Linked DNA regions of Homo sapiens: all the other regions are reported to be linked to region 3. The links are microRNA targets in miRTarBase. Many come from high-throughput screens and were not tested one by one. Region 3 holds a microRNA gene; each other region holds the end of a gene's coding sequence.
Evidence for each region. The annotated mature microRNA hsa-miR-6893-5p reads CAGGCAGGUGUAGGGUGGAGC and lies in region 3 at 1,901-1,921, shown strand. An mRNA with a match to its seed (bases 2 to 7 or 8) in the 3' UTR can be bound and repressed. Matches are read on the target gene's strand: a 7mer-m8 pairs with bases 2 to 8, a 7mer-A1 pairs with bases 2 to 7 and ends in A, and an 8mer does both.

Region 1 (3,000 bases), not on the chromosome of region 3:
GCTGCAGTCCTGTCCCCTCATGGCTGCCCTGGGTCGTGGGCGCCATCTCTCTCTTCCTCTACCATCACTAGGGGTGGATAGTACAGGGGTAGTGTTTTTGTGTTTTGCTTTGAGACAGGGACTCACTCTGTCGCCCAGGCTGGAGTGCAGTGGGGCAATCATGACTCACTGCAGTGATCCTCCCACCTCAGCCTCCCAAGTAGCTGGGATTACAGGCGCCCACCACCAGTCTGGCTAATTTTTGTATTTTTTGTAGAGACAGGGTTTCACCATGTTGCCCAGGCTGGTCTCGAACTCTTGGGCTCAAGTGATCTGTATACCTCAGCCTCCCAAAGTGTCGGGATTACAGGTGTGAGCCACTGTGCCCTGCCACAGGAAGTAGATTTTAACTCTCATCCTTCAACAGAGTGGAATGTTGGCTGTCCGTGAAAACCGCTACATTGTCCTGGCCAAGGACTTCGAGAAAGCATACAAGACTGTCATCAAGAAGGACGAGCAGGAGCATGAGTTTTACAAGTGACCCTTCCCTTCCCTCCACCACACCACTCAGGGGCTGGGGCTTCTCTCGCACCCCCAGCACCTCTGTCCCAAAACCTCATTCCCTTTTTTCTTTACCCAGGATTGGTTTCTTCAATAAATAGATAAGATCGAATCCATTTAATTTCTTCTTAGAAGTTTAACTCCTTTGGAGAATGTGGGCCTTGAATAGGATCCTCTGGGTCCCTCTTAATCTGACAGATGAGCAGACGAGGTGCATGGCCTGGGTTGCAGCTTGAGAGAACCAAAATATTCAAACCAGATGACTTCCAAAATGTGGGGAAAGGGATGGAAAATGAACCTGAGATGGAGTCCTTAATCACGGGATAAAGCCCTGTGCATCTCCCTCATTTCCTACAGGTAAAAGACAGTAAAGAAATTCAGGTCACAGGCCTTGGGAGTTCATAGGAAGGAGATGTCCAGTGCTGTCCAGTAGAACTTTGCACAATGATGGATATGTTCTGTGTTCTCCAGTATGGTAGCTGCTCGCCACATGTGGCTAATAAGTACCTGAAATATGGCTAGCATGACTGAGAAACTGAACTTTTTTTTTTTTTTTTTTTTTTTTTTTTTTTGAGATGGAGTCTTGCTCTGTCACCCAGGCTGGAGTGCAGTGGTGAGATCTTGGCTCACTGCAGCCTCTGCCTCCCAGGTTCAAGTGATTCTCCTGCCTCAGCCTCCCGAGTAGCTGGGACCACAGGCATCTGCCACCACACCCGGCTAAATTTTGTATTTCTAGTAGAGACAGGGTTTCACTATATTGGCTAGGCTGGTCTCGAACTCCTGACCTCAAATGATCTGCCTGCCTTGGCCTCCCTAAGTTGTTGGGATTACAGGCGTGAGCCACTGTGCCTGGTCAAGAAATGGAACTCTTACACACTGCTGGTGGGAATGTGAAATGGTAAGCCACTTCGGAAAACAGTTTGACAATTTCTTATGCTAAAAATACACCTATCAGATGATTTAGCCACTTCTAGGTATTTACTTAAGAAAAAATAAGGCATACATCCATATGAAGACTTGTAAATAAATGTTCTCATTATTTTTATTTGAAATAGCTAAAACTGGAAACAACCCAAATATCCATCAGCAAGTGAATGGATAAACAAATTGTAATATTTGTATGCAATATAACACCACTCAGTAATATGAAAATGAACTACTGATGTATGCAAAAACGTGAAATTCAAAATAATTATGCTGAGTGACAGAATCCAGACAACAAATAATACATAATGTATTATTCTATTTACATAAAGTTTTAGAAAATCCAAACTAATCTAAGTAACAAAGCATACCAATGGTATATGGGGCTTGGGGCAGGTGAGACGGATTATAGAGAAAAAAGTAGGAGGTGATAGACATGTTTAGTTTTTTTGCTTGTTTGTTTTTACTGTGGTAATGGTTTTTCAAGTGTGTATGTCAAAACTTATCAAATTGTACCTAATTTATTGTAGTTTTATTGATACCTCAATAAAATTAATAGTTACATACATAAATGTACTTGAAGTTCCACCTAGCACAATAAGGTAAGAAAAAAAATTAAGGCGTGGGACTGGAAAAGAAATGAAACTCTTCATTATTCACAAATGTCATGATTGCATATATGGAAAATCTAAGTCTACACAAAACCTATTAAAATTAAATAGTGAATTTAGCAATGTGGCTAAACAAAGGTCAATATAAAATATTAAATATAAGCCAGGCATGGTGACATGCATCCACAGTCCCAGCTACTCAGGAGGCTGAGGCAGGAGAATTGCTTGAGCCCGGGAGTTCAAGTCCAGCCTGGGCAACACAGCAAGACCCACTGTCTCTGAAAAAAAATCAAATACATATATCAGCAATAAATAAATAGGAAATTAAATTTTAAATTATAACATTTATCAAATAAATTCTTAAGTGCCAAGAATAAATTTAAAATATGAGATATAAATAGTTAAAATTACAGAATATTGACAGAAATCAAAGAAGACAAATAAATGTTGGGATACAACATGTTAATGTATTGGAAGATTACGAGTAAAAATATTAATTCTCCACAAATTGATCTATAAACAACGCAGCGCCAATCAGAATCCCAGCAGTTTTGTCCTGCTGGAAACTGACAAACTGATTCTGAAATATATAAGTAAATGAAAGGCTCAGAAATAGCCAAGAGAATATTTGAAGAAAAAAGCAAAGCTGGAAGACTTACAATACCAAATATCCAGACTGATGGTAAAGCTGTTGTAACTAATGTAGTGTGGTATGGCCTTACCAATGGACAAATCAATGGAACAAAATATGGAGTCCAAAAAGAAAATAATATACTCACTTGATTTCTGACAAAGTTAATCCTGTGGTACACTGGAGTATGAGTGATCTTTTATTAAATGTTGCCTTGTCAACTCTATGTAGATAAAATAAATCTGTGTTACCAGATGAAGAGTTTTTAATTGGGTTGTTCAGGTTATTGGCATG
Region 2 (3,000 bases), not on the chromosome of region 3:
GTATCCTTAGTAGAGACGGGGTTTCACCATGTTAGCCAGGATGGTCTCGGTCTCCTGACCTTGCGATCCGCCCGCCTCAGCCTCCCAAAATGCTGGGATTACAGGTGTGAGCCACCACGCCCGGCCGAGAATAGCTACATTTTTAAAAGATACTTAGCCTGGCCCTACCTCTAGGTGGAAATATCTGTGCCACCAACTGAGGAGCTGAGAATGGGGTGGGGCTAAGGCTTAAGGGTTTCACGACACTAAAAAAAATTGACGAAATGCTGGAAGGTTGGGTCATGAGGGCAGGAAGCAGAGGAGTTGGAGCCTGGTTTCTGGGCCATAAGTAAACTTTACAAACTTCAAAGCTCTCAGAGACCTCTAGGTAATAATCACGGCATCTTTAATTGGCAAACTCAGGGCCAAGATCTATCTGGCTGTCAGTCTGGGCTGAGAACTGGTGTTGCAAGCTGGGCTTTCCCCAGGCTGTGTTGAGGGTTAGGGGAGGGGACTGAGATGTACACTGGAAATTAAAACCTGGTACAAAGGTATCTCCTACTGCCAAGGTTCCTCTTCTCACCCCATGTGCCCCTGTGATAAAGTGACACACGAGTCAACCCGCCCCAGAAAAGCTGAGGGAGAGAGAGACCACGGTGGGATTGGATTGGAGATGAGGTTCGAATAAAGTCAGTTCATTACTTGACACCCGAACAGTGTCTTTTCTCCAAAACTTCTACCTCCTTTCAGGCTGATAAATCTGGTTCCTTCCTCCCTGGGTAGGCCAGACACAGGGCTGAGCTGGGTGACAGGTGAGGGCGCACAGGCCAGCAGAGGTCACAGGCCCTTGCTCTCCTTGGGCAGGTGTTGTCCTGACCAGAGGCAGGGCAGGGGCTGCCCGTGGCTGGACTCTGCCCACAAAGGAATTAGTGGTAGCTGGATAATGGAGTCGTGAAGTGCTGGAGGGATTCCGTGTAGAACTTGGGGATACAGATGGGTACGGTTGCCACTGGCTACAAATCTAACACCAGGTGTTCCTGGCCTAGCCCCCTCTGCCCATGATGGCACATACTTAAAGACAGCAAAGATGGTGCGTACCTAAAGACAGGAAAGATGCAAGGACTGTTTTGACACAGACATGGGTTCAAGAAATACTTCCCTTTCTTCTTTGCTGTACTTTAAGATAAACACCAAAAACACTAAAAGCAAGCCATGATGAATGGCTACTCATGCTTGGTCAGGAGCTGATGGGATGAGTGGCCGGACCACAGTAAGTTGGGAGTTCTGGCTCCGGCCCAACTCCCAACAACTGCGACTTTCTGAGAGCCTAGGTGAACTTGCGAAATCTTTGGATTTTTCAAGAGATGCCAGAAACCTGGATTTTGGTGCAAAATATCCCTTTAGATCTTCATCACTAATTCTTATCACTTAAAAACACTGCCTGGGCCCAAATCAATACAGCAACTGCAGGCGAGATCCAATACAGGGTCACTGGTTTTTTAGGTTGTGCAGCAAAAAGACAATGAAGGCCAGTGCAGTGGCTCCCCTGTAATCCCAGCACTTTGGGAGGCCAAGGTGGGCGAATTGCTTGAACCGAGGAGTTTGAGACCAGCCTGATCAACATAGTGGGAACCCCATCTCTGCAAAAAAATTTAAAAATTAGCCAGGCATAGTGTTGCCCACCTGTAGTCACAGCCATCTGAGAGGCTGGGGCAGGAGGATTCCTTGAGCCCAGCAGGTCTAGGCTGCAGTGAGCCCAGTTCACACCACTGCATTCCAGCCTGGGTGAGGAGCAAGATGCTGTCTTAATAAGTAAATAAATAAACAAAAAAAACAGACAATGGGTATTGTCTTGTGGGAAGGTCAAAGAATAAAAAAGAAAAGGCCAGGTGAGGTGGCTCACGCCTGTAATCCCAGCACTTTGGGAGGCAGAGGTGGGTGGATCACCTGAGGGCAGGAGTTCGAGACCAGCCTAGCCAACATGGTGAAACCCCATCTCTACTAAAAATACAAAAAGTTAGCCGGGCATAGTGGCAGGTGCCTGTAATTCCAGCTACTTGGGTGGCTGAGGCAGGAGAATCGCTTGACTCCAGGAGGTGGAAGTTGCAGTGAGTCGAGATCGCACCATTGCACTCCAGCCTGGGCAACAAGAGCAAAACTCCGTCTCAAAAAATTAAAAAAGTAAAAAGAAAAAGACAACAGAGAAAACAAGGTTCTTCTCTACCTCAATCCTCTTAGCATCTCTGGGAGGAGAAACAGCTTTTGCTTCCCTGTATGGAGGTCTGGGGGGTTCTCACCTCAGCCCTGCCTCAGCAAAGGGGGCCTTGGAGAGCCCAGGGCAGCGGGGAGCAAGGTGCTGGCAGAAGAGGCTGCTGAGAGCCCAAGATCAGACTGTCCGCACCCCAGGCCAGCTCTTGCGGTGGATTCTGGGACCTCCCTGCAGGCCGCTGCAGAGGTTCGGGCCCCTGAGCCCATCTCGGGCCGCCCACAATGTCTAGATGGTCACTTTTTAGGCCGTCACCCACATTCCTGGAATATCTCTGGATACAGCTGGAAGCCCACAGGCGGGTCCAGGTCCCCGCGGACAGGAGTCAGGGTCACAGACAGCCCCCCAGGGCGCCGGCCCCTACGCCCCTCGCCCCCGGGCCGATGGACCCATTGGTGCTTGGCCATGCCGGTCTTCAGGCCGAAGCAGCGGCCACACTGCGGGCAGCGGTAGGGCTTCTCGCCAGTGTGAACGCGCAGGTGAGAAGTCAGCGCCGTGCGGCGCATGAAGGCCCGACCACACTCGGGACAGCGGTGGGGCCGCTCCCCACGATGGATGGCCCGGTGTTTGCTCAGGGAGGAAGCGTGGCCGAAGCCCTTGCCGCAGTCTGCGCAGTGGAAGGGCTTCTCGCCCCTGTGGCTGTAAATGTGCTCCACCAGTGTGGAGCGCCAGGCGAAGCTCTTCCCGCACACGTAGCAGCCGTGACGCTGGTCAGCTCGGGGGACAGGGGGGTGGGCAAAAAAGCGGGGGCGACT
Region 3 (3,148 bases):
TGAGACCAGCCTGGCTGGTCTCAAAAAAAAAATGGGGTACCTGCTGTGTGGTATGCATCTGTGTTACAGCTAAGTTGGTCAGCCTGGCCAGGATGGGGGCTAGCCCATGGGCTGAGATCTGGGCACCTTCCCGCCCCGCCTGCCTCATGCCCCTGCGACCAGGTGCACTGTCTCCCCACAAGGGGACCGGGCAGGCACAGAGGCGGAGGATATGCTGTGGCTGGTCCACCTGTCTCAGGGGGAAGCATGTCCTTCACTGGTGACACCTAGGCCGGAGGAGGAGAGGGCAGGGCCACGGACTTGCTCTGGGCTCTAAGACTGAGGCCCTGGGCTCAGCTTAGGCTGCAGAGCTCACGGGGCTGGGGCCAGGCTGTGAGGTACACAGGGCCAGGCTCCTTCCTGTCCTTGGTCACAGGGCCACCCCCTTAACCCTCGGGACTACTGTGGCTGGACACCTCTGCACGAGGCCTGCAACTACGGGCATCTAGGTGAGCAAGGGACAGAAGGAGCCTGGCGCACCTTGGTGGACACGTGGGGCGAAGAGTCAGTCCTGGCGGGGCATCGGGAGCTGGGCTTACGTCTCCTGGTCTGCAGAAATTGTCCGCTTCCTGCTGGACCACGGGGCCGCAGTGGACGACCCAGGTGGCCAGGGCTGCGAAGGCATCACCCCCCTCCACGATGCCCTCAACTGTGGCCACTTCGAGGTGGCTGAGCTGCTGCTTGAACGGGGGGCGTCCGTCACCCTCCGCACTCGAAAGGTGAGCCTGGTGGGGCAGAGGGCAAGGGCGAGGTTATGGGGGCTGCTGTGCCCCTGCTCAACTGATGCCACACAGGGCCTCAGCCCGCTGGAGACGCTGCAGCAGTGGGTGAAGCTGTACCGCAGGGACCTGGACCTGGAGACGCGGCAGAAGGCCAGGGCCATGGAGATGCTGCTCCAGGCGGCTGCCTCGGGCCAAGGCAAGCAGGGCGTCCCTTGTCCCTGGGGTTGCTGTGCCTACGCTGAGAGTCCCCGGGCCCTGATTTCGGGAGATGCTCCATCACAGGTGGAGCGGGAGGTGCCGGGCCCCTGCCTCAACACGCATTCTCTCTCCCACAGATCCCCACAGCTCCCAGGCCTTCCACACCCCAAGCAGCCTTCTGTTTGACCCCGAGACCTCTCCTCCTTTGAGCCCCTGCCCAGAACCCCCCTCTAATAGCACTAGACTCCCAGAGGCCTCTCAGGCCCATGTCAGGGTCTCCCCAGGGCAGGCGGCACCAGCCATGGCCAGGCCTCGGAGGAGCAGGCATGGGCCAGCCAGCAGCAGCAGCAGCTCAGAAGGCGAGGACAGCGCAGGCCCCGCACGGCCGTCCCAGAAGAGGCCTCGGTGCTCGGCCACAGCACAACGGGTGGCAGCCTGGACGCCTGGCCCCGCCAGCAACAGGGAAGCAGCCACAGCCAGCACCAGCCGGGCAGCCTACCAGGCAGCCATCCGGGGTGTGGGCAGTGCTCAGAGCCGGCTGGGGCCTGGCCCACCGCGGGGCCACAGCAAAGCCCTTGCCCCCCAGGCAGCGCTCATCCCGGAGGAGGAGTGCCTGGCCGGGGACTGGCTGGAGCTGGACATGCCCCTGACCCGCAGCCGCCGGCCCCGCCCCCGGGGCACTGGAGACAACCGCAGGCCCAGTAGTACCTCTGGGTCGGACAGTGAGGAGAGCAGGCCCCGTGCCCGAGCCAAGCAGGTCCGCCTGACCTGCATGCAGAGTTGCAGTGCGCCAGTTAACGCAGGGCCCAGCAGCCTGGCTTCAGAACCTCCAGGGAGCCCCAGCACCCCCAGGGTCTCAGAGCCCAGTGGGGACAGCTCTGCGGCAGGCCAGCCCTTGGTGGGTATGCAGACCTGGAGCAGAGCCCTCTCCCCACTCCGGGCAGGCAGGTGTAGGGTGGAGCCCACTGTGGCTCCTGACTCAGCCCTGCTGCCTTCACCTGCCAGGGTCCGGCCCCGCCCCCTCCCATCCGGGTTCGAGTTCAAGTTCAGGATCATCTCTTCCTCATCCCTGTCCCACACAGGTGAGGCATCGCCTGCCCTACCCCGCAGCCCACCTGTGCAGCTCCATGCCAGGGTGCTCGTGTTTGCATGTCAGGGTGGGGCGTGTGACGAGGGCTCCCTGGTGTGTTCCAGGAGGATCCTGTGGCCCCCAGGAATAGCAGAGGGGCTGGTGGTGTGCTGGGCTGCAGGGAGAGGAGGGGCCGGCTACCTGGGAATGGGAGAAGCAGCTGAGGGGGCTTCTGGCCCTGGGCAGGGATGGCGGGTCCCTGGGGCATTACCCCGGCTGTGTGCAGGCAGCAGCAGCAGCGCCTCTGTCCCTGCAGCAGTGACACCCACTCTGTGGCCTGGCTGGCCGAGCAGGCGGCCCAGCGCTACTACCAGACCTGCGGGCTGCTGCCCAGGCTCACCCTACGGAAAGAGGGGGCCCTGCTGGCCCCACAGGACCTCATCCCTGATGTGCTGCAGAGCAATGACGAGGTGAGCCGCAGAGCGGAGGGGGAGCCAGGGCCTCAGGCACCGGGAGCCCCCGGGTGGCTCATGGCTGCAGAGCAATGATGAGGTGAGCCGGGGGAGCCCCCAGGTGGCTCATGACGGTGCCTTCCAGGTGTTGGCTGAGGTGACTTCGTGGGACCTGCCCCCGTTGACTGACCGCTACCGCAGGGCCTGCCAGAGCCTGGGGCAAGGTGAGGGCCAGGAGAGCTGCAGTTTCTGGGTGAGGTCGTACAAGGGGGTTGGGCACACAGGCTCCACCAGCCCGGTTCATTCCTGGGCCTCGGGTGTTTTGGGGTGCACCTCCCCCAGCCTGGTGGGTGCTGTGTCCTGCACTTGGATGTGTGGGTGGAAGGGAGAGGACAGCCCTCAGCCCCCATGATCTGCTGACAGGGAGATGGCAAAAAGCAGCCGAAAGCCTGGAAAGTCAAACCCAAGGAGGAGGGCCTGGCATGGGCTGGGAGCTGCTGGGGAAGCTTCCCAGAAAGCTTGTCCCGGGGGGTGTGGAATCTGGCAGTGACTGGTGGAGCTCAGGGTGCTGCAGACCCACCCCGGCCCCCAGGGCCTCACAGTGCTAGACCCACAGGCATGTGCGAGTGGGCTCTACAGCAAGTCTGGTGGGTGACCCCTGGGGCTGT
Region 4 (3,000 bases), not on the chromosome of region 3:
ACCTTTGCTGGGGGGAGACACTGACTGGGCTCCGGGGGTAGGCGCAGTGGACCTGGCAAGGGGCCCTGCTGAGGAGGAGAAGAGGCCATTGGCACCTGAGGAGGAAGAGGATGCGGGATGCCGGGACCTGGAGTCACTTTCCCCACGAGAAGACCCTGAGATGTCTACCGCTCTCAGCCGGAAGGTGTCTGACGTCACATCCTCAGGTGTGCAGTCCTTTGATGAGGAGGAAGGCGAGGCCAACAACTAGTTTCCTCCCCCAATGCCCTGCCTTCCACTCCCACCTGAGGGCCATGGCTGTGACCCATACCCTCCCTCCCCCCAGCAGTACAGCTGAAACTGGGCAGACAACATTGGGGAACCCAGGAGCTTCCAGTCCTCTCCTGGAAATGGAGGACCAGGATGGGATTTTATCCAGGCTTACACTCTAGAAACCCACAGGCCTGGGAACTGAGACCTGGGCAACTAGATGGCCGTGAGCTTGGTGTGGCTGTGGAGAAGGACCTGGGCTGTGGGCTTCTGGGTCTGTGCCGACAAAGCCTCCAGTGTGTGCACCCTGAGGACGGGGGCAGCGCAGCTGTGCTCAAGACTGGATCTCAGTTCTTCACGCCCCGATTTCGTCTTCCAGGAGCTGTAACTCTGCTGTCTGAATGCCTCCTTTCTCCATTTCACTCTTGCTTTTCCCAACTCTGTTTTCTCTGGCTGTGGCCCCAGCTCATCCCTACTGAGAGAACAGACCTCAGGGGCTGTTGGACATGGCTGGACAGGCGCAGGGGAGGCTGCCTGAAGGGCACGTCCATGGGGAGGGTGGAGAGGCTGCCTCAGCAGGTCATTTGGCTTCTGAGATCAGGAGTCGAGGAGGAGGTGGATGTGGCAGCTGAGATCTACAGGGGGCACGGATGTGGTTCTTTCTATCAAGGCCTGCCCGGAGACAAGAGAGTCACTGAGGAGACTAAGAACAAACACAGCCCCTTGCTCTGGGATCTTTAATATCCCATGGCTAAAAGGAAGATCCTAAGGATCTGGGAAAAGACCCAGCCAGGGCTGGCTGCTCCAGCTCTTGCTTCCCTTTCAGCTTTCTTCCATCCCTGCTCCGGGAGCCTGAGGAGGGTGTGGGGACACCCATCTTGGATACACCAACGCAGGATGCAGGTGTCGCCAACAGCAGGGGGAGCATGAGGGCTGTCTCCCCTTATTCACCCCTGTCCTCTGAAGCTGTTTACACTTTTCTCTTTGCCTTTTCTACATTTTTATAACTTCTTGGGCACTCAGGGTTGAGTGGAGTGGAGGGAGGAGTCCGGTGCTGTCACTCCCTCAGCCAGGCAGGGTTGCAGCTGAGGGCCAGGGTGGGCACTCGGCACTTTCTGCCCCTTCTTCAGCTCCTCCCAGGACTCCCAAACAGCCTCACAGCTGTCCTCCCTGCCTCCCCAGGCCTCCTACCAGAGGAAGAGAGGAAAATCAGCGGATTCTTCCTTCCAGGATGGTGTATGGTGAGGCACAAGCTTGCCCTCCCACACTTGGCATCCATGCTGGTGGGGACTGAGCAGCATATGCGCCCCAGCACTACCGTGAGAGCACAGGCAGAGGATGGGCGGAGCAAAGCAGCGGTGCTGTGGGGTTGGAGAGCACTTGGCCCTGCCACTGCCCAGGTAGCCCCTCCCCAGCCCTTGGCACAGGCAGAGTTCGGGTAGGAGAGAGAGGCCTAAGAGGCTCACTGCCCTATCTCCTTCTTTCCTCACGCCCTTCCAAGGCTCCGGCTCCCAGGCCTGTGTCCTACCCACACTCTGTCAGGAGTCCTACCACTTGCATCCTCTGCTGGAAGGGAGCACTGTTGTCCTCTCCTGGCCCTGGGCACAAACTTTGCCCTCACCCCCAGGCCCCAGAACTTATTATTTTGGAGTGAGAAGGTTGAGAGTTGGGGTGTTTCTGTCCATCTATGGTCCTGTCCCGCCATCAAGTTCATACTCTCTTACTCACACTTCTGGGATGCAAGCAGGGCAGGGGGTTCTGTGTCTTCCATGGAAGGGGGACAATGGTTATCCTGAGGTTGGTTTTTGGAGGAAACATGGGCGTAGGCAAGGTGAACCAAGGCAGGTGCAGTCACCTAACCGAATGCTGCCTGTACAGGGGAAGAGTCCTCTTGTGCTTGCTAACGTGTGCTGACTCCATGTCCCAGGACCTCATTTCCAGGAGCTCTGAGAGGTGGTCTAGCATGCCCGCCCTGGCAGCTATTCCCCACCCGTCTCCTGCTGCAGGCTCTGGGGTTTTGCATGTTCATGTGACCTTCCTTCCATGGGGTCCCTGGTTCCTCACCTTCTCCAATGTGTGCTATTCCCACATCACCTCTTCCTGTCGTCTCATCCTCTCAGTGCCCATATCATACCCCCAGACCACGGTGGACAGCTCACCTAGTGAGTGCGTTCATTCATTACAGTTCGTTTTTGCTCAGGCCCGGGGGAGTTAGGAAAGGTAGACCACAGCAGCTTTCGTTCCTCCTTCCCTTTCCCAAGGAAGCCAAATGGTCCCTGACAAAAGATGACTAAAGATCTGAAGGACTCTAGCAGGGTTCATACATGAACCTGCTTTCCCCAGGGTGCTGGCATATTGCTGCAGATGGAAGTCAGGTGGGGGTCTGTCTTCTGCAAGGAGCTCCTACTCGCTCTGAAGAGGGAGACTGAGGAGCTGGCCTGGGACCATCTTAGGACTCTTCTGGTGCTGGGGGCAGGGTGCATGGGGGTTGCTTATCGTCTATTTCAGGGGGTGGGGAGGGGCATGTGCAGGAAGAGGCTGTTTCGGGGTGGGAAAGGGTTGCTTTTCCTTTGGGGTTAAGGCTGTGCAGCACGTTTTACAGCAGTCCTGGAACAGGGCTGTTTTTATATTCTTGTGAATGAAACTGCTCTTGCTAAATGATTTTCTTTTTTTGGAGGGGGGGTGCACTTTCATTTTCAATTGACTTTATTAAATGAAAATCCAAATCTTCCACTCCTCCCCCTCCATTGT

Region 1: miRTarBase lists PSMC4 as a target of hsa-miR-6893-5p. The part of its 3' UTR that is shown has no 7-base or 8-base seed match.
Region 2: the mRNA of ZNF747 is a reported target of hsa-miR-6893-5p. Seed matches in the 3' UTR shown: 7mer-m8 at 2,048-2,054 and 7mer-m8 at 860-866.
Region 4: miRTarBase lists FAM131B as a target of hsa-miR-6893-5p. Seed matches in the 3' UTR shown: 7mer-m8 at 267-273 and 7mer-m8 at 1,419-1,425.

What each region holds. Positions count from the first base shown.
Region 1 is chr19:39,980,786-39,983,785 of GRCh38, forward strand. PSMC4 (proteasome 26S subunit, ATPase 4) reads left to right here. Exons shown (of 11, transcript NM_006503.4): 11 at 407-979. The coding sequence ends at 520. Among named protein-coding and RNA genes, the nearest start is that of PSMC4, 11 kb to the left of the region's middle.
Region 2 is chr16:30,530,003-30,533,002 of GRCh38, forward strand. It overlaps ZNF747 (zinc finger protein 747), which reads right to left. Exons shown (of 3, transcript NM_001305018.2): 3 at 365-3,000. The coding sequence ends at 2,497. It also overlaps a transcript of ZNF768 not described here. Among named protein-coding and RNA genes, the nearest start is that of ZNF747, 3.4 kb to the right of the region's middle.
Region 3 is chr8:144,434,367-144,437,514 of GRCh38, reverse strand. MIR6893 (microRNA 6893) reads left to right here and starts at 1,896; the gene lies at 1,896-1,964. TONSL (tonsoku like, DNA repair protein) reads left to right here. Exons shown (of 26, transcript NM_013432.5): 14 at 416-488; 15 at 595-758; 16 at 834-957; 17 at 1,097-1,857; 18 at 1,965-2,041; 19 at 2,345-2,498; 20 at 2,626-2,704. It overlaps TONSL-AS1 (TONSL antisense RNA 1), which reads right to left and starts at 2,347. Exons shown (of 6, transcript NR_109770.1): 1 at 2,075-2,347; 2 at 520-764.
Region 4 is chr7:143,353,800-143,356,799 of GRCh38, reverse strand. FAM131B (family with sequence similarity 131 member B) reads left to right here. Exons shown (of 7, transcript NM_001031690.3): 7 at 1-3,000. The coding sequence ends at 250. Among named protein-coding and RNA genes, the nearest start is that of FAM131B-AS1, 6.4 kb to the left of the region's middle.